2 linked regions of the Homo sapiens genome follow. The gene in region 2 interacts genetically with the main gene of each other region. Each region holds a gene or a part of one and is shown on either strand. Other genes may lie near its edges.

Region 1 (3,500 bases), on a different chromosome or scaffold from region 2:
TTTTTCCTTTCTCAATTCCAGAGAATTTCCGCTGCCTGTGCACTCATGAAAAGGGCTTTGGCTTTAAGGGAAGCAGCTTCCACCGCATCATCCCCCAGTTCATGTGCCAGGGCGGTGATTTCACAAACCACAATGGCACTGGGGGCAAGTCCATCTATGGGAAGAAGTTCGATGATGAAAACTTTATCCTCAAGCATACGGGACCAGGTAGGAGCCAGTTGGCATGTGGTGACGAGGGAGGCTGGGCAAGGGTGGGATGGCCAGGCAGGATGGAAGGACAGGTTGTAGTTCTGGCTGGCGGACACTAAGAGTCTGGAGGAGACCCAGCCACCAGACATAGGAGAACCATGCAGCCTTGCTAGGGTGGAGTTGGCTTGTTGACATTCAGGTACTGTTCATCCCCCAACCGTGTCCACAATTCCTATTAGCCCCGCTTGGATTCTGTGGTCTGCTGTTGCAGGCTCTTATGCTCTCAACCCCACTGCTCTCCCTGCCCTCACCATCAGATTTACTCAGTAAAATCTCGGTGGTTAGTCCCCCAGCAACTAGAGAAAAAACACAGAATTGTACTGAACAATCCCACTTGAAATTTATAACTATAGTTCTTAAGGGGACCCTTGCCAACCTGACCAGATTTCCCTACTTGATGCTCAGTCCCAACCGGAGATGATGTGTCCATGCCCGTCTTCACTTCTGAAGCCCTCATATCATCACCTTCCCACCTCATCTAATGCTTCACCTCCTGCATCTCTCCACTCGTGCATGCTCTTTCTTCCAATTACAGGGGATGAGCTGTCTCTCCTAGGCCAGCCTCTCCACCTGTGGACTGGATCCTGTCCCTCTCCTCTACTTAGGAACATGGCTTCTAAAGTTGTCCCCTTCTTGTAATCCATTTCCCCTGCTCTGCTAGATCAGTCCATTAGCATGAAAGCATGCAGTTATCAACCTTTAAAAAAAATCTTCATCCGGTTGCCGGGTGCAGTGGCTTAGTCCTGTAATCCCAGCATTTTGGGAGGCAGAGGCAGGCGGATCACCTGAGGTCAGGAGTTGGAGGCCAGCCTAACTAACATGGAGAAACCCCATCTCTACTAAAAATATAAAATTAGCCGGGCGTGGTGGCGCGTGCCTGTAATCCTAGCTGCTCGGAAGGCTGAGGCAGGAGAATCACTTGAACCTGGGAGGCGGAGGTTGTGATGAGCCAAGATCGCACCATTGCACTCCAGCCTGGGCAACAAGAGCGAAACTCCGTCTCGGAAAAAAAAAAACAAACTTCATCCTTGTACTCTTGTTCCCTCTCCAGCTATCACCCATGCCCCTGGTCCCCCATCTTTTTTCAAGAAGTAAAAGCATAACTTCTTGAAAACATGGTACAGACTTGCTGCCTTCGCGTTTTCTCTAATCCCTTCTAGGCAGACTTCTAGTCCCATCTCGCCATTGAAACCACTCTTGCCAAAAATACGAGTAGCCAGTTCTTGGCGATCATCTTATCCCACCTCCCAGATGTTATCCCACCTCCCAGGAGCATTTCATACTACAGGTTGAGTGTCCCTTTCCTGAAATGCTTGGGACCAGAAGTATTTTGTATTTTGGAATATTTGCATTATACTTACCAGTTGAGCATCCCAAATCTGAATATCTCAAATCTGAAATGCTCGAGTGAGCAGTTCCTTTGAGTATCATATCAGTGCTCGTGAAGTTTCAGATTTTGGGGCATTTTGGATTTTGGATTTTCACATTTGGGATGCTCAGCCTGTACTAACTCTGTTCTCCTTGACTCCTTCTTCACTTGGCTGGCAGGACTCCTGCCTCTTCTTGTCTCCTTTTACCTAGATGGCTGCTTTTTCTGTCTTTGCTGTCTCCTTCTTTTCCTGACCCTTAAACACTGAAGTGGCTCAGAGCCCATTCTTTGGTTCTCCAGAAGCCTGTTACCCTGTGCTCCGTTTTTCTAACTGGTGGTTTGTAGGGCCCCTCTTTACTATACTGAACTGACATGTGTAGGTGATATAGCCCACTGACCCACATCGTTATTTTAAAAATCAGTATTCATCTGTAACTATAATAGGGAAGAACATCAGAGGAAATAAACGAATTTGTATAATACTCGAATATGTTTCCAGATGTACATGCTTAAGCACAGCTGTGTCAGAACACAAAGTGAATTATTCAGGCGTCTGCCCCTGTACTCAAACGCAGCAGTTAGAAATGCAGACGGGAGTGTCAACTGGATACCACTAGGAGTGATGCTATTGGTGATACGGCTTTGTGAAATGGTAGATAAAGTTGATTAGAGTCCAAAGTAAAGAATAATCTGTTTATTTACATAGTAGTTACATTCCTAGAAGATTCCATGGAAAATCAAAAGCACTCCAAAACTTTGGGCTTATATGTATAATGGAATTATGTTTTAGGTGCAGATAACTGTAAACACATTTTTTACCTATACCAATATCTGGCAGGATATTTGTTGTTTTGTTGTTGTTTGGTTTTTGTTTTTTTGAGACAGGGTCTCTTTCTGTTGCTCAGGCTGGAGTGCAGTGGTGCAAGACGGCTCACTGCAGCCTCAACCTCTCCAGCTCAAGCAGTCCTGCCTCAGCCTCCCAAATAGCTGGGATTATAGGTGCACGCCATCCATAATGCCAGGCTAATTTTTAAGTTTTTTGTAGAGACAGGGTTTCATTATATTGCTCAGGCTAGTCTGGAACTCTTAGCTTCAAGTGATCCTCCCACTTCAGCCTCCCAGAGTGCTGGGATTACAAGCATTAGCCACTGCGCCCAGCCTCTAGCAGGATGTTTGTAAGGGCCAAGAGGATATGAGACAATTCATTGTGCCAGACATTGCAGAACATCTAGCATTCCAGGCCCCCACCTGCTAAATGCCAGTAGCACCCCCACAATATTTCAGACAGTCAAAAACACTTTCAGGCCAGGCACGGCGGCTCATGCCTGTAATCCCAACACTTTGGGAGTCTGAAGTGGCAGCCCAAAGCCAGAGGATCACGTGAGTTCAGGAGTTCGAGACCAGCCTGGGCAACATAGTGAGACCCTATATCTACTGAAAAAAGAATAAAAAAATTATCCAGGTGTGGTGGTGCACGCCTGTAGTCTCAGCCGCTTGGGAGTTGAGGTGAGAGGATTGCTTGTGCCCCAGAGATTGAGGCTACAGTGAGCTGTGATGCACTCCTGTACTCAGCCTGGGTGACAGAGTGATCCCCATCTCAAAAAAAGTAAATTCAGATTTCCAAAGGTTTCCTAGGGACAGGACACCAACCCCACTGAGAAGCAGTGCCCTAAGCAGTCACACCCGGTCCCAGGGCTTTCAGCGGTATCTCTGAGTTAAGTTTGTGCAGACTGGCATCTGCATGCTGATGGCTCCCTGAGCTCCAGACTCCTGTCCAACTGCCTGCCTGTTGTCTTCACTGGATATCCCACGAGCATCTCACACTTTACATGTCTAAAACAGCTCTTGGCCTTCTCCCCTAAACTCTTCCTCCTCCTCTTCC
Region 2 (3,500 bases):
CATATCCATCTTTGTGCCTAAGCAAAACGGAAATAACTGAGGAAATGACTGAACCTCTAGTTACGTTTTCAGACTTTTGAAATACAGTGGTATGCTTAAGTTTGAAACTTGGGTGGGCATGGGGGTGGAGGGGAAACGTATCTGTGCTGTCCCTTTCTGCGGACAGAGAATAATCTTGCCAAACATCCAAACTGCTAGAAGCCAAAAAAGAAAGAAGCAAAATGGACAAGCTGATTCCATTTCCTGTAAGTGGTTAGTTCCCTGCTTTGTTAAATCTCTTACATGTATCACTGCTAATGCCTCTGTCCAGGGTGGTATGCAAAGTGGGCAGAACGTTTTTCCCCCTTGCACTCAACATTTCAGCTAAACAACTGCAAATTCCCAGGAAACTTTCGCTTTGAATTCAGTGTGGATCAAGGGCAATATTCAAATCCTTTTTAAAGCACAATACCAGGAGTTTGAGGCTTTACTTTGTTCCAGCTGCATTTTCTAAATGGGTGGATCTCCATCAAAGTGGGAAATAAATAAAAGCGGGGGTGGGAGGGAAATCCCTCCCCCCAGTTGTTGTCATCCATCTAAAACAGGCAATACTTATGAAATACCTCTGACTCTTGTTGGGGTCGTAATAGACTTTAGCCAATCCATTTCCAGTTCCAACCATGATCTGGTTCAGCTTTGGATGCCACAGGCAGCGAACAACACTCTGCAAAGGAAAAGCGCAGTGGTTGACTAAAGAGGCCAGATAAAAATGGAAACAATCCTGCTGGTACTTTGATGGCTAGTCTACTATATCAAATATCATCCTGATGGTTTACCTCTAACTTTCAGACATTTTCTTTTAAACCATAAAGTTGTGTTCCTGAAGTAAAATTCCATTCCATCACTTATTATCTGGGTGATACTCCATAAAAATAAAAAAGATGTTCTCTTCCTGACATTATCTCCCTTTCTGGACAGCCCTGAAACCACAAAATTAGGTTTCCCAGGTCCATTACCACGTGAGGCTGGCATCATGGAATGCTAAATCCACATAACTCAGTTACACTTACCACTGAAGCGAATTTCATGCTCTTACACACATACAATATGTCCCTCTGGACAGCAGATTGAGACCAGGTGGTTATTGTTTTTAGTTCACAAAGATCCAAATCTCATAAAGCTTTTTCAGAAACAATGCACATTTGTAGGCATTTAATAATGTCTCCCTATCTATGAGATAAAACAGCAGGACAACAGCAGAAGTAAAACAGAGATACAGAATACAAAGACTTGACATTAACCTAAATGAAAAGCTGTTTAAGAGAAGGTTCACTGGAAGTTATGATCCTATGAATTCATTACTGGTAAGGAAAATAAGTGGTGCTCTGGGGCTGAAAAGAACCACAAGTTCTCAGTGAGAACTATAACCTGTTTTTAATTTTTGTCTGTGGTAAGAGGGCAGAGGTGGGAGGGATAGCGTGGACAGAATTAAAGGGAAAAAAGATGAAGCTAATGTTAGTAAACAGAAACCCCATGTACTAGGTTCTATAGAACTCACTCTGATAGAACAAGATATGAGTGGAAGCATTAATTCAATGTTTATTAATAATCTATCACTTGTCAAACTATATATAGGGACTAAAGGGGAAAAGGGTATGATTAGATATTAGCATTTTATAGTTCTAGTGGTAAAATGAAAATCATGACTACGTCTCCTAAATCTACTTTGGGCTGAATTTCTTTGGTTCCTTGTCTCTACTCATTCCACTCTTTTGTTAAGACAGAATATCTTGAAATCTCTCAGATCCTTTTTGATAGAACATTGATTCCCAGCTGGGCATGGTGGCACGCGCCTGTAGTCCGAGCTACTCAGGAGGCTGAGGCAGGAAGATTGCTTGAGCCTAGGAGTTTGAGGCTTCAGTGAGCTATGATTGTGCCACTGCATTCCAGCCTGGGTGACAGAGTGAGACTCTGTCTCTTAAAAAAAAAAAAAAGAAAGAAAGAAAGAAAGAAAAAAACAAAGAAATAAAAATTCTGACTCCCATGTGAATGGCAAAAAAATAGGCCAAAAAAAAATAGGTAAATGGCTGCAAACCCTTACCTGAGATTCCAGAGGAACTAAGGAGAAAGCTGAAAAGAGTCTACAAGACTTTTATTTAATTCATATCTGATTTAACAGACTTACTCTAGAAGAGTGGTTCTTAACCTATGTACCACTGAAGAGGAATGGGATATTGTACAGAGAAAATCAAATCAGAATGGCTGTGTTTTCCCCATCAGCTGGGGGGAAAATTAAGTTAAAGGGGCAGGTTTTCACAACTTTAGGCTTGCTTTCCACAATTTTTCTCAAATCTATGGTGCCTGCTACCCAGGCTAGCAAGTTCTAAAAGATGATAAAACAAATATAATAGTGAGTAAATATTAACAGAAAAACTTGAAAAAATAAGATATATTTAATTTGATAGTTTGGGTATTTTTTGGGGGGGGGGTTGTTGTTGCTTTGTACCTATGCTTGTAAAACCTAGTTTATAATGCATACATATAAAAGTCACATTTTCTCCTAATAAAATTGCTCCTGGTTGGGAAGATGTAATTAAGTATATCAATAGCTCATGGTCTACAAAGTGCAGCTTCTAGGTGCTCCACCACTGAGACTAATTTGAGATAGACCACTGGAAATTCCCAGATGGCCACAGCCAGGTATATGGAAACATAAGGAGAGTCACAAACATAACTTCATGAAGTCATGTTTATGAAACCCTATGTAGAAGAAATCCATCTGAGCCAAGACTCATCTCTTTTAGTCTTTGCTTAAATGTCATTGCTATCTAAACCACCCAATTTAAAACTGTGCCCCAGAACTCCCCTTAGTCTGCTTTTCTTTTTTTATAGCATGTATCATCTTTTAATATAATATATAACTTATTTATTAATGATGCTGATTGTCTGCCTTCCCCACTAGAACACATATTTCATGGGCAAAGATCTCAGTCAGTTTTGTTTGGCAACATATCCCAAGTGCCTAGATTAGTGTCTGGTGCTCAAAAAATGTTCACCAAAGGAATGAATTAAAAGCTACAGTTCACCCATGCCTAAATGGATTGCTTTGCTAGGTAGAGCTGGAGACAATTTTCAAATTAAAATCATTACTCCATGAGAAATAATTTGATTTCCTCATATCATTATTATACTCAGGTATCCTACAAATGTAGCAGGGTTAGATTCCTCCTAATGTGGTCCTAGAGAGAGAGAATGTACATGAATCACAGAATAATGAAAGCGGCTGTCAAAGGCTTTCAGAAATCTCAGCCACCCATAAATGGCCCAGGACAATATTAAGGGCACAGTATTAGAGTTATTTCTCTTTCTTGGTTCTCTAGAGGTCTGGCTCAGCAGTCTAAGATTACTAGTTCTCAAATATGTTTTCAAGTGAGCAGGGTGCAGAATTGGAAAAGATCCACAATGTAGGCCTGATAAATTCCAAGACATCCAGCCAAACAGGCAGTTTCCAGGGGCAGCAG

What was found. Genes that interact genetically often act in the same process or in processes that back each other up.
Region 1: changes in WDR70 (region 2) and PPIE together harm fitness more than expected from each alone (negative genetic interaction), as found in Homo sapiens cells (one large-scale study listed by BioGRID).

Annotation. Positions count from the first base shown.
Region 1 is NC_000001.11:39,748,882-39,752,381, forward strand, and holds part of PPIE (peptidyl-prolyl cis-trans isomerase E), read left to right. Parts: intron 1-21; coding exon 22-207; intron 208-3,500. UniProt on the Homo sapiens protein: Involved in pre-mRNA splicing as component of the spliceosome. Combines RNA-binding and PPIase activities.
Region 2 is NC_000005.10:37,718,318-37,721,817, reverse strand, and holds part of WDR70 (WD repeat-containing protein 70), read right to left. Parts: intron 704-3,500; coding exon 603-703; intron 1-602.